4 separate regions of the Homo sapiens genome follow, and regions 2, 3 and 4 are each linked to region 1. Evidence: fine-mapped expression QTL. A gene starts in region 1. Each other region holds a variant in brackets. All regions are shown on one strand. Distances are from middle to middle.

Region 1 (7,777 bases):
ATATATTATCCATTAGATAGCTCCAGTGGTGTGCTGGTAAATGTTCAACAACTGACTCTTAAAGAAAAACGCATGCATTTATATACATACATATTTATTATAAATTTTTCTGATATAAAAGATTGTTACACACAATTTACTATTTGTAAATTTTACTATTGGTTCCTACAGACTGCTTTCATTGATTTTTGCAGAACTTTTGCAATCCATAGCCAACCTATGGTTCCGGCTGAACTGATTTGACAAATGGAGTTATATACCCATTTATTTTCTAATAAATCAATAACGTATTGTTATTGGATGTAATATGTAATCTATTATTAAAGTATTTGTCACCCTATTATATAATGAGTGTAGTACAGGCTATAGTCATTAAATTAAAACCTAGTTTTAGCACTAGATATATTGTTCATCAATGATGTGAGTGAGATTTTTCCTGAGTCAGAAAATAGTTTTCTAATATGTACTGAAATAATATTTTCTCAATTTGGGGGGCTATTCCCAATGTAATGGATATTAGCACCACACACTTTTAAGTTTATTCTGCATTATTTTGACATTTTCTTCATTACTTTCTTAAGTCTAATCAACTGATGAAACAATAAATAAAGCCCTGATTTGTATGTAAATTTTTGCCTGTATATTTTTCTTTCCTCATGGACTTGGGAAATTTTCTATGATCCTCATGGCTTTGCAGCTACTTACTGTATGCACCCTCACCTTGTTTGCAGCATTATCAGCTCCAGGACAGCCGAAATCCTTCTTGGTTCTTTCATACTATCGCCCACTGTGTCTAAAGTAGATTTTAAGTTAGTGTTACTTGAATTGCAAGTACTACTACCACTGAAGCAGCAACTCTGTTTCCATTGCTTGGGGAGAAGACCAAAAACACACATTAAACACCTGGAGAAAAAAAGTAAAACCACATTAAAGTGAGATTGTAGGAACTGACCAGAAATTTAGAAAAGAGAAAAACTCACTGCTGTGTGAAGAAGTCAAAGGAACTTCATGTTGACTTGAACAAGAAATTAAAGGAACCCCGGGCCTTGGCCTAAGGACAGACTGGAAATGGTGGTTTGGAGAGAAGAAATGAGGACAAAGGGAATGTGTGAGGAACAGTGGAAGGTAAAGTTGGCTGGATAAAATGAGACTTCAAAATGCCAGTTTGCGAAGCTTGAACTTGGTGCAATAAACAATCAAAGGCCATTTTAGATGTATATGAAAACAAATGGCATGGAAATGATATTGAAGCAGAAATCTGGTAGCATCCCCAGAACAGGAATTTCAGAAACTATTGCAGTGGCTTAGGTTTAAAAGACAAGAAACAACAAATGATCAGTTCCCCAGTGATCAGTGATAGGTCATGTTGATACCGTGTACCCACAGATACCAGGCAATGAGAAAGGCACATAATCTCTGTAGCATTCTTCCTAAACATCCACAGCTTCAGTCCAATCATGAGAAAACATCAGACAAACCCAAACTGAGGGATAGTATACAGAAACCAGTACTGTTCAAAAGTGTCAAGGTTTTTGAAGACAACTGACTGAGAAACTGTCACAGATTAGAGGAGGCTAAGAACACAGGAAAACTAACTGCAATATGGTATCCTGAATTGGGTCCTGGAATAGAAAACGGACATTAGTGGAACAGTTGGTGAAATTAAAATAAAATCAGTAACACAGTTAATAGTTTCGTATCACTGTTAAGTTTTTAGTTTCATTGGTTATATAAGCTGTTAACATAAGGCAATATGGGTGATGGGTATGTGGGAACTCCCTTTATTACCTTTGCAACTTTTCTGTAAGTCTAAAATCATTCTTTTTTTAAGTTAAAACAGCAAAACTACCAGTTCTTTTACCTGCTTCTAGCAGGTGCTCAAAGAGGGACAGAGCAAAACCTTGCAAAGCATGACATTAGAGGGTGTCCCAGAAGCAAGGGTCTTCTGTAGCCCCAGGCACTGCTGCTCCCAAACTGCATGGCCTTTCTTGGCAAATGATTTACAATCTCCGAACCTCAGGTCAATGTCTTAAAAACGGGCACAGAATGTCTTTTCAACAAATGGTACTAAGAAAACTGGATATCCACATGAAAAAGAGTAAATGTGGACTCATACCACATATGAAAATTAACTCAAAATGGATTAAAGGTCTAAGAGTTTAAATTATAAAACTCTTAGGAGAAAACATAGAGGAAAATCTTCCTAACATTGTATTTGGCTATGACTTCACTGCGACACCGAAAGCACACGCGACAAAATAAAAATAAAATAAAATAAAATAAGACCAGAAAAGCAAAGAAGGGCAGCATCCCTTCCCGTCCTGATAGCTGCCGGATTTTACCCCAATCGTGTTTCTGCTTCCAGGAGCTGTCCGCGCGTCGCCTCTGTTTTATCACTAAGGTTTTAATTGTGAATAAACAAGGAACTGGATTCGAATGATTTCTTAGTTTCTGAGATTTTTTTGTCTAAGCATCGTAGACTTCGTGCGTTCTCAACCCAACAGGAAGCGTCACATCTCAGTGAGCTTCGGCTCTCACAGCCCGAAACTGCAAGGAGCTCCTCTGCCCGGCCTCTCTTTACTCCTCCTCTCTGCCCCTCAGCTCGCTCATCTTTCTTCCCGCCCCCTCTCTTTTCCTTCTTTGGTTCTTTGAAGTGATGAGCTAGCGCAACCACAAACCATACATTCCTTTTGTAGAAAAACCCGTGCCTCGAATGAGGCGAGACTCAGAGAGGACCCAGGCGCGGGGCGGACCCCTCCAATTCCTTCCTCGCGCCCCCGAAAGAGCGGCGCACCAGCAGCCGAACTGCCGGCGCCCAGGCTCCCTGGTCCGGCCGGGATGCGGCCGGTACCCGCTCCCCGCCGGGAACAACCTCTCCACTCTTCCTGCAGGGAGCTGGTGCCAGCCGACAGCCGCGCCAGGGCCGCTCCGGGTACCAGGGTCGGATCGGGTGACGTCGCGAACTTGCGCCTGGCCGCCAAGCCGGCCTCCAGGCTGAAGAAGGACCCGCCCCGGCCTTGACCCGGGCCCCGCCCCTCCAGCCGGGGCACCGAGCCCCGGCCCTAGCTGCTCGCCCCTACTCGCCGGCACTCGCCCGGCTCGCCCGCTTTCGCACCCAGTTCACGCGCCACAGCTATGTGTCCCCGAGCCGCGCGGGCGCCCGCGACGCTACTCCTCGCCCTGGGCGCGGTGCTGTGGCCTGCGGCTGGCGCCTGGGAGCTTACGATTTTGCACACCAACGACGTGCACAGCCGGCTGGAGCAGACCAGCGAGGACTCCAGCAAGTGCGTCAACGCCAGCCGCTGCATGGGTGGCGTGGCTCGGCTCTTCACCAAGGTTCAGCAGATCCGCCGCGCCGAACCCAACGTGCTGCTGCTGGACGCCGGCGACCAGTACCAGGGCACTATCTGGTTCACCGTGTACAAGGGCGCCGAGGTGGCGCACTTCATGAACGCCCTGCGCTACGATGCCATGGTAAGACCCGAGCCCGCGCCCGGGATAGTAGTCCCGGACTGAGAGAGGAGCCGGGCTGGAAAAGCAGCGGATGGCAGAGTGTGGCAAGCCTAGGTCCAGGGCGCGGAGAGATGTGGGGATAAAGTGAGACTCCGGCCAGTGTGCCAGCTGGATGCATAGAAGTCCCTTGGACGATTCGTCTTAAACGGACGTTATTGCGCCCCCACTATGAGATGGGAGTATTTAGAGGAGCAGGACCCAGTCCTGCCTGCGAGGGGCTTAAGGTGGGGTGCGTAGAAGCACTGACAGTTATCCAGAGCTAGGGACTGAATCGGATCCCTCACGCAGCTCTCATTTACTGCTAGATCTTTCAAAGAATGCTTTATCTCAATCTAGATCTTTCGAAAAATGCTTTATCTCAATCTTATTGAAAGGGAAACCGCGTCGAAGAAGCTGAATAAATTAACAGGCACCATCCCCGCAAAAAGGGAGACGTGATAAGAATGGACACCAGATCTCTTTGACCCCGGAGCTTGAGAGTAATTAAGCTCACAGCTTTGGGGTAGATTCTCTGTTCAATTACCTTCTATGTGACCTTGAGCAAGTTATTTACTCTTTCTTGCCTCAGTTCTATCCTGTATAAAAATAAGGATTATAATTGTACATAGTGCACATAGTGTGGTCTCTATATTATTACCAGACACATAGTGTGGTGTCTATATATGTTGTTATTACCAGACACTATAATATAGGGTTAAGAAAAGGAAAGAAAGAAAGAAAGAGAAAGAAAGAAAGAAACTTCAGAGAGAGCCAAAATGTGGAAAGACTTGGGTTTCAAAGGATTTCAATAAAGTAGGTTTGGCGGCAGAGATTTAGGAAGAGTCCAACTTAAGAGATAATGGGCTCTTAAAACATGTGCAAAAGTTTAGTTCAAAGTCCCAAATGTTAGGTTAAAGGTAATGCCTTTTCTATTGCACTAAATTCTAGAAAGGGAGCAGAGGTGGTTGCACAGTAATAAATAAGTACAACCAAGATGTATATATGGTGGTTAAAAAAAAAATAAAACCACCACCCAAATTTAACCCTGTGTAAAAGCCTTGAGTAAAGGGATTCAGCAAGACTGTGGAGAAACTTGGGAGAAGAAAAAAGAGCTTTGGAAGAGGAAGAACTGAGAAATCTCCAGAGAAACGTCCAGAGAAATCTGTGAAGTCCACAAGTGTGGAAGGGAAAGGGAAGTGTGATTAGGCTGGGATACAGAAGGCTAACAGTACACTTTATATGAGAAGAGCTTAGAGGTCAGGAGAGCACAATGCTGAGGGGTTTGTTTGGTTTTATTTTCCCCTCTGGAAACTTGGAGAAAGGAGGACAGGAAAAGATGATAAGAGGGCACCATTGTTTGGTTTTAAAGGTCCCTCCCCAACCCCCCACAACAAGAAAGCTCATTTTAATGAGATGAGAGAAGGGGAGAAAGCTCCCTCCGTTCTGATGCTTTTGAGCTTATCAGGGACACCCTGCAGCAGAAATTCCAGCTGATCCTTCAGCCTTCAGAGTTGATGAGGTGGGGCTCACACACATCTGGATTTGAAGAAGAATCGTGGGTTTCAAGAACTCTGTGGTCTCTTAAGCATTGGTATTCCACAGCTACACTTCCCTGATACTTTGCACTCAGTAATGACAAAATAAATATTTGTAGAATTGAGTTGTTGCTACCCTGTGTCTCCACTTCCTCCCAGAAGGGTAGAATAAACTTACATGTGTTTGTTTTATTTTGCATATAAACCACGACTTTGTAAACTTTACTTTTTGTGACACTCTTTTCTCCACAATTGTGTGAACCCTTTTTAGTGGAAAAATAAGAATGAAGAATTCCTAGTTTTCCCTAATAATATTTCCCTCTTGTAAGTCTAGTTGAGCTCCTGGTGTTAATCATGGTATCAAATGTTTATGACAGGACATCTAGGTGAGGCCTGAGTAAACTGCTGTAAGTTACAGCCTATCTCTTCTGTGTTTGTTCAGAATCCTTTTTGTTGGATGAAATTACTTTCTTTCAAATTTTGCTCAAGAAAATTGAATTGGGTTCTGAGGAAAAATAGGCTACTTACGTAATGTTGGCAGGGGGTAAAGATTGGGAGCGGATCACATGGCAAGGTTAGATGGCTGTGTCCTCAGGACTTACTCTGTGCAGTTTGGGGGTGTGTCAAACATGATTTGACGTGCATAAAATCCCAGTTCTGTAGTGCTAAAGCATGTGCTAAAGCTCTGCTGTACTCCAGTATTGCACAGATGTTTCACTGTCAATTGTTTATATTATACTAACCCTCAGAGAATTTATTGCTGTTGTGGTATAAACGTTCCTCCACTGTAACCACTCACCGCATATTGATTCCTAGGACACTGGGGATTCAAATCAGGGTGGAAAACAGTTGTGGAGGGGCATCTCCAGTTTCCTGGAGACTGGACCTAGTTCAAAGGAGCCACATAAAAGGACTGAAGCATATGGAGGACAAAGAGGAATTTCCTAGAATCCAGCTAAAACACAGGAGTCCCCTCGAGCAGGAACTTCCAAGGAGGTGTACACTTTCTAGACCTACTGGAGTAATCCTGATTGCTGTAGAGGACCCAGGGCAATCCTGGAGACCCCCTGGAACCACTACTAGGCAGAAAACTGGGAAGAGGATGGCAAAACTCTCCAGTTAGTGTAGCTGTCTCAGTGGAAGGACTGTTGTCCCCTGAGGCACGAGGAAGACAGCATGGAAGCACTGACAGTATGCGCTTGGCCTGGTTACTTTCTCTGAGCTTCATGTTCCTTAGCTGTAAAACAGGAGTGATAACCCCCATCTTGCAGAGGTTTTGTGAGGAATACATGAGATAATCCCTGCTGGTGCTCACTGAAAGTGAGTTTCATGTGCCCTGGGTGGGGAGGAGGGGAATTGTGAGGAAGGGAAGGTTTGGGTTGTGCATCAGATTATCTGATTCTCACAGCCTGGCACAGTCTACCACCTGCCTGCCCTCTACCATCTTACCTAAGTACCATTGCCTAAACTATTTTTGCTATAGTTACTCATTGAGCAGACTTATGAAATCTCCCCACAGCACAAAACTGAAGGTATCCACCTCCAGAGGTGAGATTCTCACCAAGACAGGCTGTGGGGAAGGTAGCTTTGAGCAGGTCTCTAGGGTCCCCTAGAAAGGTGCCTTTTCTCTGCTTGGCTGCTGCTTCTGAGGCCCTGGCTGCTGAGCCCACTTCCTGCCCATAAGGCTGCAGCCTTAGCCCTAGCCAATTGCTCCTAAATGGGGGAGGCAGCAGCCAGGGTGGGAACCATGGCCCCCGCCTTTAACTCACCCAGGGGACAGGTTAGTCAGATAGATGGTCCTTTGTTCGCCACCCTCCACCTCCCACATAGACAACATTCTAATGTGTTTGATGGACTGCATATAGTTTTGTTTCTACATGCACTTTCAAAACCTTTGTGTGCTTATATTTTATAATGGCATACCCAGTCCTGTTATTTAGCCCTTTCTGTTTCTTACTTTTGTCCTGAACTTATTGTTTTTATGATTTGTCCATGTTGCCCTAGATGCCCTTATACCTATACATCACTGTGAATTGTGCTCTGTGTATTTTACCCATCTCCACGTATTTTACCCATCTGCTCCCTGGCTGATGGGTTTGGAGATGGCGTCTAACACCCTGCCTCCACAAATAATGCTGCTCCAGATATCTTCCTGGATGGTCTCACCAGATGATTTCTACCCAGGAGCAGAATTGCTGGCCACAGGGCATACTTTGAGTACTACAAGACTGGTTTCCTCAATGACTGACATCCTCCATTCTCTTCCACCTACTCCCATCCCCAAACAGGACATGTAAATTTCTATATTTTACCTATATATCATGGCAGTATCCAGCTTTATTGTAGGTGTAAAATACACATTGCTGCTTTATCATGTACTTTTCTAATAACTAGTGAGTTTGGACATTTTTTGATATGTTTGTTAACTTTTTAAGCTTCCTCTTCTCTAATTGCTTATTCATATTCTTTGGTATTTTTTAAATTGGGTTAGCTTTATATTTTTTGACTTTCAGGAGTTATAGGTTTTGATCTGTGATCAATTTTAGACATTGCAAATATATTATGATGATATTAGGTCTATTAATTTTGTCCATGGTATCTTTCATTGAACAGAAATTCTTCATTTCTTGTAATTGAATTAATCTTTTTTTCCTTGTGGCTTGTGCTTTTGAAAGTTTGCCTAATAGTTTGCTAATTTAAAGCTTATCACCTTTAACACTCCTCACTGGAAATTCAGAGATCACCACGGT
Region 2 (7,777 bases), 33 kb before region 1:
CCTATAGGCAGGTTGGAGATCAGTACAGATGTTAATAAACAGTTTTATGTGATCCATTTCCTGTGCACTTCCCTCTCTGCTATCTTCCTAGTAGTTTCTAGTTCCCTGGGTCTTCTTGTGTTCAGTCCATCAGCAAAAATCCACCCACTTCTGTGGTTGAGCTACATTTGGGGACCAAATGACAAGGGAGAGAGGGGACATTATAAAGAGGGTTGGAGGTTGGAACTGCAGCTCCACCAAATGAAAAATGAAGGCTCCCCTCCCTTAGAGTTTTAATTCATGTAGTTTTCCATGATGAACACCGCCATCCCCATAAGGTTGTGTAGGGCTGGGATAAAAGAGAATGGAGAAAAAGGAGGGGTGGGGGGGGAAACTCAGGTAAATCCCTCTCTACTCTTTCTGATCTTTAGAATTCTTTTTTTTTTTTTTTTTTGAGACAGAGTCTTGCTCTGTTGCCCAGGCTGGAGTGCAGTGGCACAATCTTGACTCACTGCAACCTCCACATCCTGAGTTCAAGTGATTCTCTTGCCTCAGCCTCCCAACTAGCTTGGATTATAGGCATGCGCCACCACCAGGCCCAGCTAAGTTTTTGTATTTTTAGTATAGACAGAGTTTTACCATGTTGCCCAGGCTGGTCTTGAACTCCTGGCCTCAAGTGATGCACCCACCTTGACTTCCCAAAATGCTGAGATTACAGGCATGAACCACCGTGCCCAGCCAAGAGTTCTCTTTTAAGAGTTCCTCAAGCCAGAGCTAAATGTATTTCCTTGACTTTCTTTCTGTTCCACAGTGGTACTTCTAGATTTTGACCATGTTGAGAGCCAGCTGGAGATCCTGGAGGAAAAATATTGTAAACTAACTGCTAGTTTGGTGCTACTTGAAATTTTTCTATTCTTCCGCATCTGCCTATGACTGCAGGTAGAGGGGCAGTAGCACCATCCTCTGAAGAAAGGAACCAGCCACTTGGTAGCAGGTTGACTTTGTTTCATCCTTCAACCCTCACAGGGGCAGTCATTCATCCTGACTGCTAACCTTACTTTTGTAAGCTCCAGGAACACAGATCACTAAGAATTCTAGAGGAGCTATTCCCAGAAGACATACAAAGACTGCAGATCCAAATGACTCAAGAGGTGAAATGTAATGTATGCTGTGGTGTACTTCTCAGATGCCTTCACCTTAGGTCTGAAATACTCATTCCCCAACAATGCCTCCATGCTAAAAGTGTTGGTAACTAATGGGTCTCAGCTGAGCCCCTCTCTAGGCATTACCCTGGAGAGCCAAGCCAAAGGCTACCTTACCCAAGACCACACCGTATCCCTGGAGTCAGCTCACATTCAGTGACTGTTCAAAGCCGAGCATAAAGCTGGGGCAGAATTAATGCAAGGAAAGACCACTCTGAAAGGCCAGGATTCCCTGTGGAACTGACTAAGTCTTTAGTTTAACGCCTTCCTTTGTCCAGTCCCACTTCCTTTATTCCTCCACAAGTGTTGATAGGAGGGTACTGGCCAATTAACCTCCTGCACACAAATTGTCCCAGAGTTTGCTTCCTGGGGACAACGTTATATACTAGGTCTAAGCATGGTATTTATGACAGGAATGGGTTCAGTAATGGGCAAGTAACTTGATTTAGGTAAATACAGTATGCGGAGGTTTGTTCTGGGATCTTCTGGGAAATTTTCCTGACACTAGAGAAAACCATAGGAAGAGATTATCTCTCCTTGAAGTTAAATCTGAACAAGAACTCCTGCAGCTTCCATTGCTGCTGACAAACATATTTTGACCCCCAAAACAACCAGTCTCAGAACAAAGATTATACTGTGATTAACAGAATGGAGAGATGGAAATAACCTGAGTTCTTAATGATGCTGAGTTGCAAGATCAATGCACCCTGAAGGCCACCCCATTTTTAGACTTCTCATTATGTAGACCAATAAATTTCTTTATTATTTGAAGCAAACTAGGGGTCTCTTTTTTGTCTGTTTCTGCTACTTACAGCCAAAACATCTGACTGATACAGGTGTGCATCTCACTGACTCTTCCTTCCTATACTGCTTCTGGAGATTTTTATAAACATTCAAAAAATATTGAGAAATTCACAACCCAGAAAAAAAAACTGAACTCTAACTAAGAGCAGGTGGTGGCTGATGGTAAGTTTTCTTTTCCTTTCTTCTTCCTTTCTTTCTTTTCTTTCTTCTATGGGGCACCAATAATACATTTTCTTAAAAAGGGGACCTAGCTAAACAAATATATTTTATGTACAAAAAATAATAATTAAGACCACAATAATTTGTGTAACTGTTTGACAAAAATTATCTTAAATTATACTTTTAGGATCAAAGTACAATCTAGGCCATGAATTTGATGTATAATTGGAACTTCTGAAAGCTCCCTCTGTAATAAACAGGTAAAGTCAGACACGTGGTAATTGCAAAGGGTATTTATATGCCTGTGGAGGAGGAAGAAAGAGATTTTTGCAAAATTGCTTCAGAAGGAAAATGCCAGTAAAACAGATATAGTTCAAAAAATGAACTGTTTGCAACTTAAAAGATAAACAATCCATTATGAAAAACCAAGAAAATGTTACTCATCCCCACACATGGTATCTTGACTCAAACTCTGAAGGTCAGAATAAACTGATTTTTGTCAGGTCAGAAAGGAAAGAGTTTTCAAGAAGCAAAGTGCTCTGCCCTTTCACACAGAACAGCACATTGCCATTCCTTCAGATTCAAGAATATGACAATGGAACACTCTGTTCTGATTTTAACTGTTTTACGAGTCTCTTGTATCTCCTGGATTGATTGTGTTCTTTTCTTCCTCAGCACTAGTCATTTCAAAACTGTTTCTTCAGGCATTTAAATACAAAATCTAAAGATTCCATCATTGTGGATCATAGACAAATCACTGGGCTGAATTTAAGACACAGGCTTTAATGTCATGCCCACCAACGAACTGGGTGGCATTGAACAAATCTCTGTCTCTCTGAGCCTCCATTTCATCATCTCCAAAATGATCTCTTCTCGCTCCATGATTATAGATTTCTTGAGAAATGAGAGGAGCTGTCTGAGTGCTGGGTGGCTTGTGGCAATGATAGCCCATTTTTCTGTCTACCCACCCCCCAACATTTCACACTTCAAAGTCTTAGCCCAATTTATAGCCTGGTCAGTCTGTTATGGGGAAGCTGGAGGCTGAGGAGATTTCTTCATAAATACTCAAGACAGAAACAACAAATCCTCTTCTTCCAAGTCTACAATCAACCTCTATTTTACTTTTGGTGCCTTGAGAGTTAGCCCACATCATCAGTGCAGAAGAAAAATGAATCAAACACTTCAGTTCCTTTTCTGCTGTGAATTTTAGAAATGATCTCAGAGGTCATTCTGTAGCGAGTCTGACTGATTTTGTATAAGTTAAGGTGGTGGTGAGTAAGGACTGAATAAACCTAGAGTCCTTCAGAGACGTATTAATAAGTTTGAGTCTTCAAACCTATACAAAATTTGCTCTTTGTTCTCTAAGTCTAACCCCAAATACCTAGGAAGATCCTCAGGCCACAGCATCAAAGCCAACCCCATGACCCACAGCACCATAGATAGAAAAGCTGGCTCAGAAATGCAATCTTACCAGGAAACAGTGACTGGAATCCATGGAGTGCTTTGCAAGGTACCTGGCTTGGACACTTAAAAGGTTCCATGAGAAAGAACAGAGGGAGAAGGGAAAGCTGCTCTAGACTAAAGGCTATGAAAGAAACATAGCAGGCAAATGTAATGCATTAACCTTGACTCTAATGACATTCTGAAAACAATTTAGTAAATTTATTTATTGACTATGTGTTGGGTATTTTTGAATTAATGTTCCTTAGATGTGAAATATCCCTATTCAATTGTGATTGTTGAATAAGAACATTATATGGGAGTGATGTGTCATGATGCCTGCATACTACTTTCAGATGGCTTATGAAAGGAAATGTGTGAGTGAGTGAGTGTGTGTGTGTGTGTGTGAAGATGCTGCTAGCTTTAAATCTAGGAGAGCAGTATATGGATGTTAATTTTTCTGGGTGTTTTTTTTTCCAATTTTTTTTCAAGCATTTAAAAACTTTTTTTAATTTAAAAAATTTAAGAAAGACAATTCAGCCAGGCTTGGTCAGAGAGCATGTGGGGCTCCAGGGTATCTCATGGCTATATGCCCTTAGGATGTTTCTTTTTCCCAGGTGCCACTTTATTTCTAGTTCTCTGAGCAAAAATCATTACTGACATTTGTCAGGGCCAACCACAGAGATTTAAATTGCAAAAAAAAAAAAAAAAAAAAAGGAGGGGGATGGGGTGGGTGCAGGTACTGCAGTAGGGACATATTTTATTCTCCATTTACAGAGGAGAAAACCAAAGCACACTTAAGTTAGCTAACTTGCCGGAGGCCCCTGCAGGAGCCACACTGATTTTCAACTCAGATTCCCCTGAGTCCCTTTGACCAGTTCTCTGTAATCTTGTAGCTACTGTATCCTTCACTTCCAATAGGCCTCACAGGCAGAGGACTAACCCCTGGCCTGCTGGAGCCATTTCACCCAGACTCCAAATTCAGGAGAACCAGAAGTGCTAAGGACTTAGGTCCTTCCAGAGGAACCCATAGTAATGACTGACTCATCAGTCTCAGGAATTCCTTCCATTTCAATGCAGTCCCAGAAAATAAATCCTCCCTCCACTGTTGTCATACTTTCAAAGACCAACTGCGTATTCCCCAAATCAAACCACTTCCCTCCCAAA[C/T]ATCCTGATATCCCACATGCATGCTTGTCATTGCCTCCCACACCATCTTCCATTGCCATGGATGAGCAGTGCTTCAAGATAAAGTTTCATAATTACAGGTTTATGTTGTATTCGTTCTCTTTCAGAAAAAAAGAATTTTGTCTCTAAGTTGTCCCAGTGTCCTTCCTTATGAGGAACATGTATGAGCACAATGCTTGGACTTTGTGAAATCTATTCTTATGGTTCTGGGATTTCTTCTGTTTTCTTCCTGAATCTTGGCTGAATTCCAGAACTAAGATTGGCTAAATAGCCATACAGTCTGGGTTAATATTGTTATTAGCAGGAGGTGAAGATCCAAATATGTGATAACTAGTACAGCACAGAGGGCACCACCTAAGAGTGGGTGGGTGCAGGCAGATGGTGCGCCAAAGCAGGATCCTGGAGGACACTCCTCTCACTATGCCGCATATGAGCCCTTCAGAAGCTGGACTGTGAGGAGGGCTAGGGGATCCCTTGGCATCAGAGGAGCACTCAGGTGGGACTTGTGGCAACAGTTACTTGCTGTCAGGTACAGAAGTATTTCTATATTTAACAGTCATGATAGCTGTGCCACTGAGGACCACCTGACCATCAGTTCTGATTGTGTTTTAATGATGAAAATAACAGGAAAAAATTATTCTGAGGCCATGTAAAAGAGAGAGGATGAGAATGAATGAGTAAATGAATACAAATAGAGGATAAAAGATACTAAACACAGATACGTTAAACTCTATCTCTCACTCTCTCTCTCACACACACACACACACACACACACACTCACACTCAGGAAAACAAGTGAAGTGCCACACCTACAGCAACAAGAATTTTGTGGTCAGTCTCTATTTGCACTCAGCTTTAAAACTTCAGTTCCCCTTTCACTAAAAGTTTTCCCTTTTAGTGAAAGGCTGTTTGGGTGCTTTCTGCTGTTGAGGTTCCTGGCCAGTCAGCCAGGAGCTGACCTCAGGAAAATGTGAAACATTTTTCAGCCAGTGGGGAGGAGCTGGTCAAAGTAGGGAGGAGTGCACTAACGAAAAGCAATAATGTTATTCAGGAAAACTTAAAAGGGGAAAAAGCAACACTAGGCATCATAAGCATGGAGGAACAAAGAGGCCTGGGAGAGCAGAACATTTGCTTCTGAGCTATCTAAAAAAATTTTCCAAGTTCTTGGGCCCTAAAAATGTCCTGGGTCATCAGAGTTTACACTGACCAACCCTGTCACCTCAGCCCTTGGTCAGCAGGTGCCATGAGCACAGCAGCACTGTAGGACCTAAAGGAAAAAGAGGCTTGATTTTGAGAGACAGGTTTAATCATGTTTTCCAATTAGAATCAACAAGGATTTTTCCTTTGTTACTCACTAATGAGTACATTAAAATCCAGACATAGTGAGAGAATAGGTTAACTAAACAGAGAATGATCTACCTGGCCAAGAGGTGAAAATATTGCTACGAATTCTAGGTGGGGACAACCAACCACAGGGTCACCACACAGAAGACAAACCTACATAAGCAGAGAGCTCCAAAACTGCACAAGTGAAAAAGTTAACTTTTGTGACTGTCTTAGTCCATTCCTGCTACCATAACCAAATACCACAGACTGGGCAAGTTATAAATAATAGAAACTTATTTCTCATGGTTCTGGAGGCTAGCATGTCCATCCAAGATCAAGGCACCAGAAGATTTGGTGTGTGGTGAGGACTCACTCTTCACTTCAGTTATGGCACCTTCTCTATGCATCCTCACATAGAGGAAGAGGCAAATAAGCTCCCTCAGACCTCTTTTATATGAGCACGTATCCCTTGTGGAGCCCTCCTGACCAAATCACCTCCTAAAGGCCCCACCTCTTGATGCTATTGCATTGGAGATTAGATTTTAACATATGACTTTGGAGGTGGGGAAGGGCACAAGCATTCAGATGATAGCAGTGATGCTTCATCACACCATCTATTCGATGGCTCTAAGATTTATCTCCAACCGAATTTGTCATCAGAAAGGATTTTCCTGATTTTATTATGATGCCAGTAAAATAAGAAAAATGAAATGACTTACCAAAGATTGTTTGTTCTCCTGATGACCTCAGAGACAGAAAGAATACTAAATGCAATCAAAATAGAGTGACGGTATTAGTAGACATTAACCTAAACAACCACATCCAACTGTGTCAGGAGTGAGACAACCTGAGCAGAGGACAAGGATAGGAAAAACAGCTGTGAACCTAAGACAAAAGCCAGAGGGTTGGAACTTCTGGCCTTCTCTTGGGAAAGTGAAGTGAGGTCTGTACATGCAGAAGTAAATCAGTTGACAAAGAAGAAGCCATAAAAGCAAGAGTCAAAAGAAGCAAGGACAAGGAGAAGGAAGGCTTTCCAACTTGACTCCAATTTCTAGGATACAGAGGTTGTGCCAAGACTTATGCAGAAAGGCCTAAACTGACCACTGACTTTTGGGAAAACTCTTCCCAGCTCCTACTGATAATGAAATCATTGGCCAATGTTGCACTGGTTCCCCTGTAATATTCACTCTTGTTTCTGGAGGGTCCTTAGGGGAAGAACATAACGGCTCTAATTTGACACTAGTTCCAGGTCCTAATAAGAAGATATTCAACTAAAACATAGTCCTTTACCTCCAATATTTTAATGTAGCAAACAGCTCACAACTTCAGTATACCTTATTTAGATAAGAGGAAACAGTAGGGTCAATTACACATCTGGAATTTTAGAGAGGATGCTTTCTTTGTGAACCAATATGAGAAGTTCAAATGAATTAATACATGCTTGGGAATTTAAGTTTAGATCTTCAATTTGCAGTGAAAATTACTAATACTTGAAAGAATGTTCATAACTATTTATTCTATATTTATTATATTGAGAAAATTCTAAATATAATCAAAATCTATTCTACAAATCTAATATTTCACTTTGGACTAGAAAGAATGTAAAAGAAGGAGGAACAATAAGTCCCGGAGGAATTAGTCCAGACCTCAGCAACATTTGTTTGTTTTGCTTCAAGAAACTT
Region 3 (7,777 bases), 73 kb before region 1:
GATAGAGAATAGAAAGATGGTTACCAGAGGCTGGGAATGGTATTGGGGGAGAGGGGGAATAGGGAGGAGGGATGGTTAATGGGTACAAAATAATGTTAGAAGGAATAAATAAGACCTATTATTTGCTAGCACAACACGGTGACTATAGTAAAAAATAATTTAATTGTTCATTTAAAAATAAAGAGTACAATTCAATTGTTTGAAATACAAAGGATAAATACTTGAGGTGATAACTACCCCATTTACCCTGATGTGATTATTATGCACTGCATGCCTATCTAAAAACATCTTAAGTAACCAATAAATATATACACCTATGATGTACCAAAAAAGTTAAAATAAAACATTTTTCTAGAAAAATTATAAATCCAAAATCAACTAATATTTAAAAGTTGGATTAGAAAGTTAATCGGATAGATACACTTGTATACTAAATTATTGTAAACATTAACACATTTTAAATACCAAAAATACACAGATTTTTATTTTTCTCTCTTTCTTAGTTTTTAAAGGTGTGGTATTATTCTGTTGCCCAGGCTGGAGGGCAATGGTGCAATCATAACTCAGTGCAGCCTCAGACTCCTGAGCTCAAGCAATCCCCCTGCCTCAGCCTCCCACATAGCTAGGACTCCACACCCAGTTAATTTTTTTTAAATTTTTTGTAGAGATGAGGGGGTTCTCACTATGTTGCCCAGGTTGGTCTTGAACTCTTGACCTCAAGCAATCCTCTCACCTTGGCCTCCCAAAGTGCTGCAATTACATGTGTGAGCCACCACTGCCTGGCCCAGATTTTTCTACTAATTTTTCTGTAGCCAGACGGACATACTGAGACCCTTTTGCAACTCTTTAACAAGGGGAATTTCATGCTGGTATCTGACAACTCCCCACCCAGATTGCTCATCTACTTGATTCGATATTCATAATAATATGTTTCCCATCTATCAGGCTGTCTTAGGTTTGGAAAAGTTATCTGATGGATTCTGCAAATCTGTGCTGGAGGATCACAACACTGAAATCATGCAGATAACAGAAGGACCTACTCCCTGCATGCTCCGAAGGTCCCTAATTACCTGCTTTTCCACGCCCAGAGCCCAGGCCTTCCATTCACTACCACCCCTGACTTTTGCTTCCAAGCTGTCCTGTCCACATACAAATGGGAATGGTCCTCTCATAATCTCATAATGTTGACATTGCCAAAAAAGTGTTAATATGTGGTCACTCTCGAGGGTTTGAGCATTGTCTTGGTCAGTTCAGAATGCTATAACAAATATACCATAGACAGCTGGGTGTAGTGGCTCACAACTCTGGTCCCAGCTACTCAGGAGGCTGTGGCAGAGGATGGCTTGAGCCTGGGAATTTGAGTCCAGTATGAGCAACATAGTGAGACCCTATCTCTTAAAAATTTTATTATCTATAGCGTGTAGTGTGTATAACACTGCATTGCATGTAACACTTCACACTATGGATACATAATTTTTTTTGAGATGGAGTCTCACTCTGTTGCCCAGGCTGGAGTGCAGTGGCATGATCATGGCTCACCACAACCTCTGCCTCCCAGGTTCAAGTGATTCTCTTGCCTCAGCCTCCCAACTAGCTGGGATTACAGGCATGTGCCACCACACCTGGCTAATTTTGTATTTTTAGTAGAGATGGGGTTTCACCATGTTGCCTAGGCTGGTCTCAAACTCCTAACCTCAGGTGATCCACCCACCTCGACCTCCCAAAGTGCTGGGATTATGGGCATAAGCCACCCCACCCGGCCTAGATACATAATTTTTAAGAGACAGGGTCTCACTATGTGTATGTGTATAAGTGTATATATGTATACACATGTGCCATAGATTGGGTGGTTTAAACAACAATTATTTCTAACAATTCTAAAGACTGGGAAGTCCAGACTGAGGTGCTCGCAGATCCCATGTCTGCTGAGGGTCCACTTCTGAGTGTGCCAATGACAACCTTCTCCTAGTATCCTCACTTAAGGGAGAGCAGAGAGAGAGGGAAAGGAAGCTTTTATCTGTTTCTGGTAAGGGGGCTAATCCCATTTGTGAGGGCCTCACCTTTATGACCTAACCACCTCCCAAAGGCCCTACTACCTCTAAATACCATCATGCTAGAGATTAGTCTCTAACAAATGAATTTTGGGGAACACAAACTTTCAGTCCATAGCTAGTATCTTAACTGATTACTCCTAAATATACATGGCAAACTGACAGTCCATGAGACAACTTAAGTTGAAGACATATTTATTGGCCCAAGTAATGTTGATCTAGTGCTTTAAAATTAGGATACTTCACAGAGAATCAGGACATCCCACATCTCTTGAAAACTTAGACCACTGAAATCTGTAAACCACTATTTCTGCATGGCAAAAACTGGCTGGAGATGAGCAGCAATTTTCTTCTTGGAAAGACACTGCCCTCCTCTATTTATCCAGGCCCATCATCTGCTTCACTCCAACTCTCCTCTCTATTTACACTGCCCTACTGGAACAGGGTTTGAGTTTTTCCATGTTTCTTAATGAAGGCAAGGTCAATGGTAGAAATTTCAGACATCATAGATATTTTTGATAAAGTTCTCAAAGCTGTTAATAATCACACCGCCACTGTCTATTAATGCTTATGGGTGAGATCAGCCTGCATCACAGTTTCAAAAGCCATGCAGTTCTGACCATCACTTTAAGAATGACACATATTCATGCCTGTAATCCCAGCACTTTGGGAGGATGAGCTGGGTGGATCACAAGGTCAGGAGTTCGAGACCATCTGGCTAACACAATGAAACCCCATCTCTACTAAAAACAGAAAAAAAAAATTAGCTGGGCATGGTGGCGGGCACCTGTAGTCCCAGCTACTCAGGAGGCTGAGGCAGGAGAATGGCATGAACCCAGGAGGCAGAGCTTGCAGTGAGCCTAGATAGAGCCAATGCATTCCAGCCTGGGCGACAGAGCAAGACTCTGTGTCAAAAAAAAAAAAAAAAAAAAAAAAAAACAAAGAATGACACATATTATTACTCAAAATATTATATTCAAACTGCAAATATTCTTTGAAGCAGAAGATTAAAGATGAATGAACCTGAGCCAAATAGGAACAGCTCCAGTCTCCAGCTCCCAGCGTGACACAGAAAATGGGTGATTTCTGCATTTCCCCCTGAGGTTCTGGGTTCATCTCACTGGGGCTTATCGGACAGTTGGTGCAGGACAGTGGGTGCAGCCTACCGAGCGTGAGCTGAAGCAGGGCGAGGCATTGCCTCACCTGGGAAGCGCAAGGGGTCAGGGAATTCCCTTTTCTAGCCAAGGGAAGCTGTGACAGACACCATCTGGAAACTCGGGTCACTCCCACCCTAATACTGCGCTTTTCCAATGGTCTTAGCAAATGGCACACAAGGAGATTATATCCCACGCCTGGCTCGGAGGGTCCCACACCCATGGAGCCTCGCTCATTGCTACCACAGCACTCTGAGATAGAACTGCAAAGTGGCAGCGAGGCTGGGGGATGGGTGCCCACCATTGCTGAGGTTTGAGTAGGCAAACAAAGCAGCCAGGAAGCTCGAACTGTATGGAGCCCACCACAGCTCAAGGAGGCCTGCGTGCCACTGTAGACTCCACCTCTGCGGGCAGGGCATAGCCGAACAAACGGCAGCAGAAACCTCTGCAGACTTAAATGTCCCTGTCTGACAGCTTTGAAGAGAGTAGTGGTTCTCCAAGCACGGAGTTTGAGATCTGAGAATAGACAGACTGCCTCCTCAAGTGGGTCCCTGACCTCAGAGTAGCCTAACTGGGAGGCACCCCCCAGTAGAGGCAGACAGACACCTCACACAGCTGGGTACCCCTCTGAGACGAAGCTTCCAGAGGAACGATCAGGCAGCA[A/G]CATTTGCTGTTCAGGAATATTTGCTGTTCTGCAGCCTCCGCTGCTGATACCCAGGCAAACAGGGTCTGGAGTGAACCTCCAGCAAACTCCAACAGACCTGCAGCTGAGGGTCCTGACTGTTAGAAGGAAAACTAACAAACAGAAAGGACATCCACACCAAAACCCCATCTGTACGTCACCATCATCAAAGACCAAAGGAAGATAAAACCACAAAGATGGGGAAAAAACAGAGCAGAAAAGCTGAAAATTCTAAAAATCAGAGCACCTCTCCCCCTCCAAAGGAACGCAGCTCCTCACCAGCAACGCAGCAAAGCTGGACGGAGAATGACTTTGACAAGTTGAAAGAAGAAGACTTCAGAAGAGCAAACTTCTCCGAGCTAAAGGAGGAAGTTCGAACCCATTGCAAAGAAGCTAAAATACATGAAAAAAGATTAGACGAATGGCTAACTAGAATAATCAGTGTAGAGAAGTTCTTAAATGATCTGATGGAGCTGAAAACTATGGCACAAGAATTACATGATAAATGCACAAGCTTCAGTAGCCAATTCGATCAACTACAAGGAAGGGTATCAGTGATTGAAGATCAAATTAATGAAATGAAGTGAGAAGAGAAGTTTAGAGAAAAAAGAATAAAAACAAATGAACAAAGCCTCCAAGAAATATGGGACTATGTGAAAAGACCAAATCTACATCTGATTGGTGTACCTGAAAGTGATGGGTAGAATGGAACCAAGTTGGAAAACACTCTTCAGGAGATTATCCAGGAGAACTTTCCCAAACTAACAAGGCAGGCCAACATTCAAATTCAGGAAATACAGAGAACACCACAAAGATACTCCTCGAGAAGAGCAACTCCAAGACACATAATTGTCAGATTCACCAAAGTTGAAATGAAGGAAAAAATGTTAAGGGCAGCCAGAGAGAAAGGTCGGGTTACCCACAAAGGGAAGCCCATCAGACTAACAGCTGATCTCTCATCAGAAACTCTACAAGCCAGAAGAGAGTGGGGGCCAATATTCAACATTCTTAAAGAAAAGAATTTTCAACCCAGAATTTCATATCCAACCAAACTAAGCTTCATAAGTGAAGGAGAAATAAAATCCTTTACAGACAAGCAAATGCTGAGAGATTTTGTCACCACCAGGCCTGCCCTAAAAGAGCTCCTGAAGGAAGCACTAAACATGGAAAGGAACGACAGCTACCAGCCACTGCAAAAACATGCCAAATTGTAAAGACCATCGATGCTAGGAAGAAACTGCATCAACTAACAAGCAAAATAACCAGCTAACATCATAATGACAGGATCGAATTCACAGATAACAATATTAACCTTAAATGTAAATAGGCTAAATGCTCCAATTAAAAGACACAGACTGGCAAATTGGATAAAGAGTCAAGACCCATCAGTGTGCTGTATTCAGGAGACCCATCTCACGTGCAGAGACACACATAGGCTCAAAATAAAGGGATGGAGGAAGATCTACCAAGCAAATGGAAAACAAAACAAGGCAGGGGTTGCAATCCTAGTCTCTGATAAAACAGACTTTAAACCAACAAAGATCAAAAGAGACAAAGAAGGCCATTACATAATGGTAAAGGGATCAATTCAACAAGAAGAGCTAACTATCCTAAATATATATGCACCCAATACAAGAGCACCCAGATTCATAAAGCAAGTCCTTAGAGACTTACAAAGAGACTTAGACTCCCACACAATAATAATAGGAGACTTTAACACCCCATTGTCCACATTAGACAAATCAATGAGACAGAAAGTTAAAAAGGATATCCAGGAATTGAACTCAGCTCTGCACCAAGCAGACCTGATAGACATCTACAGAACTCTCCACCCCAAATCAACAGAATATACATTCTTCTCAGCACCGCATCACACTTACTCCAAAATTGACCACATAGTTGGAAGTAAAGCACTCCTCAGCAAATGTAAAAGAACAGAAATTATAACAAACTGTCTTTCAGACCACAGTGCAATCAAACTAGAACTCAGGATTAAGAAACTCACTCAAAACTGCTCCAGTTTTTATATCCAGATATAATATCCAGAATCTACAAAGAACTCAAACACTTCTCAAAAGAAGACATTTATGCAGCCAACAGACACATGAAAAAAGGCTCATCATCACTGGTCATCAGAGAAACGCAAATCAAAACCACAGTGAGATACCATCTCACAGCAGTTCGAATGGCGATCATTAAAAAGTCAGGAAACAACAGGTGCTGGAGAGGATGTGGAGAAATAGGAACACTTTTACACTGTTGGTGGGACTGTAAACTAGTTCAACCATTGTGGAAGTCAGTGTGACAATACCTCAAGGATCTAGAACCAGAAATACCATTTGACCCAGCCATCCCGTTACTGGGTATATACCCAAGGGATTATAAATCATGCTGCTATAAAAACAAGTGCACACGTATGTTTTTTGCAGCACTATTCACAATAGCAAAGACTTGGAACCAACCCAAATGTCCATCAATGATAGACTGGATTAAGAAAATGTGGCACATATACACCATGGAATACTATGCAGCCATAACAAAGGATGAGTTCATGTCCTTTGTAGGGACATGGATGCAGCTGGAAACCATCATTCTCAGCAAACTATTGCAAGGACAGAAAACCAAACACTGCATGTTCTCACTCATAGGTGGGAATTGAACAATGAGAACACTTGGACACAGGAAGGGGAACATCATACACTGGGGCCTGTCATGGGGTGGGGTGAGGGTGGAGGGATAGCATTAGGAGATACACCTAATGTAAATGACGAGTTAATGGGTGCAGCACACCAACATGGCACATTTATACATATGTAACAAACCTGCACGTTGTGTACGTGTACCCTAGAACTTACAGTATTAAAAAAAAAAAAAAAGAAAACCACAGGAATGGAAAACCAAACACCGCATGTTCTCACTCATAAGTGGGAGCTGAACAATGAGAACATATGGACACAGGGAGGGGAACAACACACACCAGGGCCTGTCGGGGGTTGGGAGTAAGGGGAGGGAGAACATTAGGACAAATACATAATGCATGTGGGGCTTAAAACCTAGATAATGGGTTGATAGGTGCAGCAAACCACTATGGCACATCTATACCTATGTAACAAACCCGCATGTTCTGCATGTGTATCCCAAAACTTAAAAAAAAAAATAAAAAAATTAAAAAAAGAAGTGTGTTTGGAAAAAAAAAAGTGACTAGGTAAAAAAAAAAAAAAGGCTGGGCACGGTGGCTCACGCCTGTAATCCCAGCACTTTGGGAGGCCGAGGCGGGCGGATCACAAGGTCAGGAGTTCGAGACCATTTTGGCTAACACGGTGAAACCCCGTCTCTACTAAAAATACAAAAAATTAGCCGGGCGCGGTGGCGGGCGCCTGTAGTCCCAGCTACTCGGGAGGCTGAGGCAGGAGAATGGCGTGAACCTGGGAGGCGGAGCTTGCAGTGAGCCGAGATTGCGCCACTGCAATCCGGCCTGGGCTAAACAGCGGGACTCCGTCTCAAAAAAAAAAAAAAAAAAAGAAAGAAAAGAAAAGAAAAAAAAGAGAGAATGAAACTTGGGTATCATCTAATCCAATCTCTTCTTTTTATCACTGTTTGAATCAAGGCCCAGAAAGACAAAGTACCTTGACTGAAGTAACTTATTTTTGTACTTCTTGTATTTTACTGGGTTCATTCATTTACTCTTAGATTGCTTCAAACAATTCAAGAAAACTGGTACTTGAGAAATTAAAATATGTTGAAAAAATGATTTTTTTGCCTGAATTTAGAATAAAAGAAAAGGAAGAGGAAACTCATCAAAGGTAGACAGTCATTAGACCTCTAGTTCTGGCCTACCTAAAAATATTTTTATGTAAGTGAGAACTGACATCAAAGACAAAATTAAAAGA
Region 4 (7,777 bases), 140 kb after region 1:
GGGAGAAAATTTCTGCAATCTATCCATCTGAGAAAGGGCTAATATCCAGAATCTACAAGGAAGTTAAACAAATTTACAAGAAAAAAACAAACAACCCCATCAAAAAGTGGGCGAAGGATACAAACAGATCCTTCTCAAAAGAAGACATTTATGCAGCCAACAAACATATGAAAAAAAGCTCATCATCACGGGTCATTAGAGAAATGCAAATCAAAACCACAATGAGATACCATTTCATGCTAGTTAGAATGGTGATCATTAAAAAGTCAGGAAACAACAGGTGCTGGAGAGGATGTGGAGAAACAGGAACACTTTTACACTGTTGGTGGGAGTGTAAATTAGTTCCACCATTGTGGAAGACAGTGTGGTGATTCCTTAAGGATCTAGAACCAGAAATACCATTTGACCCAGCAATCCCATTACTGGGTATATACCCAAAGAATTATAAATCATTCTGCTATAAAGACACATGCACACGTTTGTGTATTGCAGCACTATACACAATAGCAGAGACTTGGAACCAACCGAAATGCCCATCAGTGATAGACTGGAAATACTATCACCATGAAATACTAGGCAGCCATAAAAAAGGATGAGTTCATGTCCTTTTCAGGAACATGGATGAAGCTGGAAACCATCATTTTCAGCAAACTAACACAGGAACAGAAAACCAAACACTGCATGTTCTTACTCATAAGTGGGAGTTGAACAATGAGAACACATAGACACAGGGGAGGGGAATATCACAAACCAGGACCTGCTGGGGAGTGGGGGACTGGGGGAGGGATAGCATTAGGAGAAATACCTAATGTAGATGATGGATTGAGGGTGCAGCAAACCACCATGGCACATGTATACCTATGTAACAAACCCACATGTTCTGCACATGTATCCCAGAACTTAAAGTATAATTAAAAAAAAACAAACAACAACAACAACAAAAACACTGAAAACCAATAAGCTAAGCATTCAGAAACTTGGGGGGAAAAACAATAAATCCAAACACATGAAAAGGAAGGAAATAGTCAAGAGCAGAAATCAACAAAATAGACAACAATGACAAATTAACAAAATATAAGCTAGTTCTTTGAAAAAATTAATAAAACAACCAAACTTCTAACTGGATACTAATGGAGGTTAGTAGGGTACCAATTATTACTCTAAAAATTGATAAAGAGTAAGCATTTATCCTACTTTTCCAATTTGAACTATCTATCAGAATAACTAAATAGACCTAACGGATGGAGTAAAGCAATTCTACAAAAAAGAATCAAACTTAAAAATACAGAAGAAATGAGAGAATTCGAGAATAACCATGTTGTAACCCATAATTAAGTAACTGATTCAAGAAATAAATAAATGGTAAAACCAAAGAGTAAGTTTGTTGGACACAGTATCGGTGGACATTAACTGAACCCATTAAAAGTGAAGCAATCCTATCTTACATATCCACTGATGTGATGCAATGGAATGTACATGGCATCACTAAAGTCTTCTTGCACCACTCCCCGCAACAGGAAAAAAAAAAAAAAAAAACTAAATCTAATTGAGCCTATAGATCAAACACTGTGACTACCAAAAATACAAATGTGAGGATTAAAATACAAGACACTACAAGGAAACCACAACAAAATCCAGAATGTGAACAAATGATCCAGTTTCCTCAACAAGTCAATGGCAAGGAGAAAAAAATGGTGAGGAGGGATCTTCCAGATCAGCAGTTGACAAATGATGGCCTGTGGACAAAAGTATACCTGTTTTTGTATGCCCCTCATACTAAGAAAGGTTTTACATTTTTAAAGGGTTTTTTAGAAAGAAGAATAAGCAACAGAGACTTAGCATGGTATACAAAGCCTAAAATATTTACTACCTAACACTTTACAGAAAAAAATGTGTCAACCCTTATTCTAGATTACAAGACATTTAGAAAAGCTTGAGATGTAGGAACCAAATAGGAGTACAACTTGTTTAGATACCAATTAGAACAACTGCACTATATATTTTTACCCAATAGGGAAAATTTTTATTATGGAGTAGTTATTAGATGATATTAACCAATTATTGTTAATTTTGTAATATTATAGTTTTGTATGGAAGTGATTTTTTTTTTATTTCTATCTTTTATAGAGACATGGTCTTGCACTGTCACCCAGGCTGGAGTGTCGGGGCACAATCATATTTCACTGTAGCCTTGAACTCTTGGCTCCAGGAATCCTCCCACCTCAGCCTCCCGAGTTAGCTAGGACCATAGGCTCGCTACTTTTTTTTCTTTTTTTGGTACAGACAGGGTCTTTCTGGCCAGGTGCATAATTTCAGCAATTTGGGAGGCCGAGGTGGGCAGATCACTTGAGGTCAGGAGTTTGAGACCAGCCTGGCCAACATGGCAAAACCCCATGTTGGGAGTCTCCACTAAAAACACAAAAATTAGCCAGGCATGATGGTGGATGCCTGTAATCCCAGCTACCTGGGAGGATGAGGCACAAGAATTCCTTGAACTGAAGAAGTGGAGATTGCAATGAGCCAAGATCACGCCACTGCACTCCAGCCTAGGTGACAAAGTGAGACTCCATCTCAAAAAAAAGAAAGAGAGAGAGACAGTGTTTTTCTATGTTGCCCAGGTTCATCTCCAACTCCTGGCCTCAAGTGATCCTCCCACCTCCACCTCCCAGAGAGCAAGAATTACAGGCATGGGCCACCTCACCCACTCTATAAGACATTTCTTAAAAAGATAAGGCAAAAAAAAAAATATGGCAAAATATGGATAGTTGTTAAAGTTGAGTAATGGGTGCTTGCAAGTTTTTTACACTCTCTTATGTATGCTTGGAAATTTTCAATATCAAAAGTTAATTAAAAAGACAAACCTCTAGCAAGACAGATCAAGGATACAAATATACAAAACACAGAATGAAAAAAGTAACCATAGCTATACTGAAATAAAAAATAAGACTATGAACAACTATATATTAATACATGGAAAATCTATATAAAATAACTTTTAAAAAATTTTTTTGAGACAGAGTCTCGCTCTGTCATCCCAGGCTGGAATGTAGTAGCATGATCAGAGCTTACTGCAGCCTCAACCTCTTAGGCACAAGTAAGTGATCCTCCCACCTCAGCCTCCTGGGTAGCTGGGACTACAGGCACACACCACCATGACCAACTACTTGTTTGGAGAGACGGGGTTCCGCCATGTTGCCCAGGCTGGTCTCGAACTTCTGGGCTCAAGTGATCCTCCCACCTTGGCCTCCCAAAGTGCTAGAATTACAGGCGTGAGCCACCAAACCCCGCC[TTAAA/T]TAAATTGTTTAAAAGATAAAAATGCAACAACTAGTAAGTGAAAAATTAGAGAATTTGAATAGAGCAATTATCATTAAAGAAATTAAAATAGTAATTAGAATCCTGGTTGCCAATAAAAGGCCCCTGGCCCAAATGGTTTTACCAAACTTTCATGAAACAGATACATACCTTATACAAACTGCTTCAGCAGGGGAGGAGCGGGGGGCAGGGTGTGTGTGGAAACTGCTCATTTAAAGGGCTAGGCCAGGCACAACAGCTCACACCTGTAATCCCAGCACTTTAGGAGGCAGAGGCAAGTGGATCTCCTGAGGTCAGGAGTTTGAGACCAGCCTAGGCAATATAGTGAAACCTCGTCTGTACACAAAAAAACTTAAAAAATTAGCTCAGCCTATATATAGTCCCAGCTACTGGGAGGCTGAAGTGGGAGGACTGCTTGAGCCCATGAGGTGGAGGTTGCAGTGAGCCAAGATCATGCCACTGTCTAGCCTGGGTGATGGACTGAGACTGTCTCAAAAAAATAAATAAGGCCAGGCTCGGTGGCTCACGCCTGTAATCCCAGCACTTTGGGAGGCCGAGGCAGGCAGATCACAAGGTCAGGAGACCGAGACCATCCTGACTAACACGGTGAAACCCCGTCTCTACTAAAAATACAAAAAAAAAATTAGCCGGGCGCGGTGGCGGGCGCCTGTAGTCCCAGCTACTTGGGAGGCTGAGGCAGGAGAATGGCATGAACCCGGGAGGCGGAGCTTGCAGTGAGCCAAGATAGCGCCACTGCAGTCTGGCCTGAGCAAAGAGCGAGACTCCGTCTCTAAATAAATAAATAAATAAATAAATGGGCTAATATAATTTTAATTCCTAAATCAGATAAAGACAATATACATTGGTCTCCCCGCAGTCAACAATTCACATACAACTTTTTACTCCCCCAAAACTTAACTCCTAATAGTTTACTGTTGACCAAAAGCCTTACCAATACAGTAATAGTTGGTTAGTACTTATTTTGTATATGTATTATATACTGTATTCTTACAATGATGTAAGCTAGAGAAAACAACATGCTATTAAGAATATCATAAGGAAGAGAAAATATATTTACTATTAAGTGGAAGTGGATTATCACAAAGGTCTTCATCTTCATTGTCTTCACACTGGGTAGGCTGAAGAGGAGGGGTTGGTCTTGCTGTCTGAGGAATTGCAGGGGTGAAAGAGGTAGAAGGGGATGCAGAAGTGGCAGGCACACTCGACTTTATAGAAGTACATCATGATTTCTGCCCGACTTTTTGCCGTTTCATTTCTCTAAAAACATTTTTATATAGTACTGATCTTTCTTCTACCATTTGCTTTAGATTCAGTGCCAGTATCAAAGAAGGGTCCATGTGATAAAAGAAGTGAAAAGCAGTCTTGATAATTGAAAACCTTCTGCCATATTGTCTACTGTCAATTTGTGTTCTGGCACCACTTTTTTTTTTTTTTTTTTTTTGAGATAGAGTCTCACTCTGTCATCCCAGCTGGAGTGCAGTGGTGCCATCATGGCTCACTGCATCCCAGGCTCAACTGATCTTCCCCACCTCAGCCCCCCATGTAGCTGGGACTACAGACGTGTACCTCCACATCCAGCTAAATTTTTTGTATTTTTTGTAGAGACAGGGTTTCACCGTGTTACCCAGGCTTGAACTCCTGGGCTCAAGTGAGCCATCCACCTTGGCCTCCCAAAATGCTGGCATTACAGGCATGAGCCACTGCATTTGGCCCCTGGCACTGTTTCTTCAAAGTCTTCTTCCTCACTGTCTAGCACTGGTTCCAAAGCACTCATCTTTATCAAGTTATATTATGTTAATTCCTCTGGTGTGATGTCTACTGGCTCTTGAATTTCTGTAAGATCCTTATGCTGAAAGACCTTTTTTGTCATATCCACAATCTCTTTCATGATTTCCTTGATTGGCTCTGGTGTAAATCCTGTGAGGTCACGCACAACACCTGGGCATAGTTTCTCCACTAGTAATTTATTGTTTCAAGTCTGATGGCTTTTACGGCTTTTTCTATAACAATGACTGCATCTTCAATGGTGTAATCCTTCCAAACTTTCATGATGTTCTCTCTATTGGAGTTCTCTTCCACAGCACTGACAATCCTTTCCATAGAGTACCATGTGTAATGCCTTAAAGTTCTTTATGAACCCCTGGATTTAGAGGCTGAATTAGAGACATTATGTCTGGGGACAAGTAGACCACTTCCACAGCTTCGATGTTGAACTCATGGGGTTCTGGGTGGCCAGGGGCATAGTCCAGTATCAAAAGAATTTTTAAAGGCAATCCCTGCTGGCAAGGTACTTTCTGACTTCAGGGACAAAGCATCAATGAAATTAATCCAGAAAGAATGATTCTTGTTGTCCAGGCCTCCTTATACAACCACAAGACTAGCAGCTGGTACTTATCTTTTTCCTTCAAAGCTCGGGGGTTAGACACTTCATAGACAAGGAACCCAACTGCATATCCATAAAATAGAAGAATTTGCGTACACCTTCCTGCCTTAAATCCTGGTGCTCATTTCTCTTCCTTACTAATAAATGTCCTTTGTGACATTTTTTCCAAAACAGGTCACTTTCATCAGCATTAAAAGCTTGTTCAGGGCTGCTCTGCCTATGGTGTAGCCATTCTTTTATTCTTTTGCTTTCTTAATAAACTTGCTTTTACAAAAAAACACCCACTCAGGAAGATATATTTAATACTTTCTCCTCAATGATTTTCTGAATGGTGTTTGGGAACTCATCTTCTGCCTGTTGGTCAGCAGAGGCTTTTTCTCCGGTTCTCTTGACATTTTTTAAGCCAGATCTCTTCCTAAAATTATCAAACTATCCTTTGCTGGCATTAAATTACCCAGTTTTAGATCCTTCTCCTTCCTTCTGCTTTAAGCTGTTATACAATGACTTCACTTGTTTTTGAATAGCATTAGTTTATATGTATGCCTTTCTCATAGCAATTCTGCCCCCACATAAAAGCTAAATTTTCAATAAAACATGAAAAGGTACTTTGCAAAAAGTACGAAGTTTTCACACCTGCTGGCATAGCTGCAGCAACAGCTTCATGAATTTCCTTTTCTTTTTTCACAATGGTCCTTACACTCAATTTATTTATCTTGAAATGGCAGGCAATCACAGCTGCAAACCTCAATCCATAGTACATACCAAGCATTTCACTTTTTCTGTAATGTCATTACTTTTCTCTGCTTCTTGGGAGTACTCCCAGTATCATTAGTGGTACTTTGTATGGATCCCATGGTATTCCACTCGGATTTCTGACTTCATAGGGGTCAGTGGCCCTAATCTCTGCACTGTTCAAGGATCAACTTCATATAAAATTATTTTTTATTTCAGAATAGATGTACCTAGTATACCCCATCTCAGAAGGGCCCATGTTTTCTTGTATAACAACATTTCAGAGATACTCTTATCATCTGTGTGTGTGTGTGTGTACGTGAATACACACATAAGTTTTTTTTTTTTTAATCACACATATACACTGAAAAGCATGCTACATACACCATCTGGCACCTTCCAAAAGATTTTTCCTGGAAAAGGGATACATAATCATGGTTTTATTCAAGACAGTTCTAGTGTTTAAAATCACTTTTGCTGACTACAGCAGTAACAAATGGAAAACACCAAAACATATGCAAAAACAGCTTCACTCATAAACCCAACCACTCAGGTAACATTTACCTGTATTTCCTACCTTCTCTGCATAAAAGAAATACAGGGTACAGGTTAGATGGTATACAGATCAGATGGCATCCTATGACTTTTTAATAACACACAACACTAAATGTTATGACCATAAGTAGATGACCTCAGAAATCTAGTTTAACCTGCTCCTACTAGATGGCTCTCCTACCTTAGAAACCTAAACTGACCCAGTTCCCAAAAGAGGTAGGTAAGAATCCATGGACAAAAGTTAATCATATGGGCTGCGTGCAGTCGCTCACGCCTGTAATCCCAGCACTTTGGGAGGCTGAGGTAGGTGGATCACTTGAGATCAGGAGTTCGAGACCAGCCTGGCCAACATGGTGAAACCCCCGTCTCTATTAAAAATGTAAAAAAAGTAGCCGGGCATGGTGGTGCCCACCTGTAGTCCCAGCTATTCTGCAGGCTGAGGCATGAGAATCACTTGAACCTGGAAGGTGGCTGTTGCAGTGAGCCGAGACCGCATCACTGCACTCCAGCCTGGGCAAGAGAGTGAGACTCCGTCTCAAAAATAAAAATAAAAATAAAAATCATATGAAGCTTACATTTCTTTCATACTAAACCTGTTAGTCTAGCTTGGAATACCTTCCAGATGACAGAAAGCAAATAATAATTAGTGTTCCCTCTGTTAAGGATCCCACTTCTCCCACACTCCTACAGTTCAAACATCTCACCATCACAGAGCACACTTCTCAGTAAAACATCAACTACTATTTAAGCTCAATAATATTTAAACCAAGAATC

The links.
Region 2: its variant is fine-mapped to the expression of NT5E in whole blood (TOPMed, PIP 0.95).
Region 3: its variant is fine-mapped to the expression of NT5E in whole blood (INTERVAL, PIP 0.91).
Region 4: its variant is fine-mapped to the expression of NT5E in whole blood (TOPMed, PIP above 0.99).

Annotation. Positions count from the first base shown.
Region 1 is chr6:85,447,005-85,454,781 of GRCh38, forward strand. It overlaps NT5E (5'-nucleotidase ecto), which reads left to right and starts at 3,079. Exons shown (of 9, transcript NM_002526.4): 1 at 3,079-3,474. The coding sequence starts at 3,136. RefSeq lists a silencer at 2,872-3,141.
Region 2 is chr6:85,413,582-85,421,358 of GRCh38, forward strand. No RefSeq gene overlaps it. Among named protein-coding and RNA genes, the nearest start is that of LINC02535, 13 kb to the left of the region's middle. The variant C/T (reference allele first, on the strand shown) is at 4,752.
Region 3 is chr6:85,374,143-85,381,919 of GRCh38, forward strand. No RefSeq gene overlaps it. Among named protein-coding and RNA genes, the nearest start is that of LINC02535, 27 kb to the right of the region's middle. The variant A/G (reference allele first, on the strand shown) is at 3,869.
Region 4 is chr6:85,584,473-85,592,249 of GRCh38, forward strand. All of the region lies in intron 1 of SNX14 (sorting nexin 14), which reads right to left. Among named protein-coding and RNA genes, the nearest start is that of SNX14, 5.5 kb to the right of the region's middle. The variant TTAAA/T (reference allele first, on the strand shown) is at 3,290.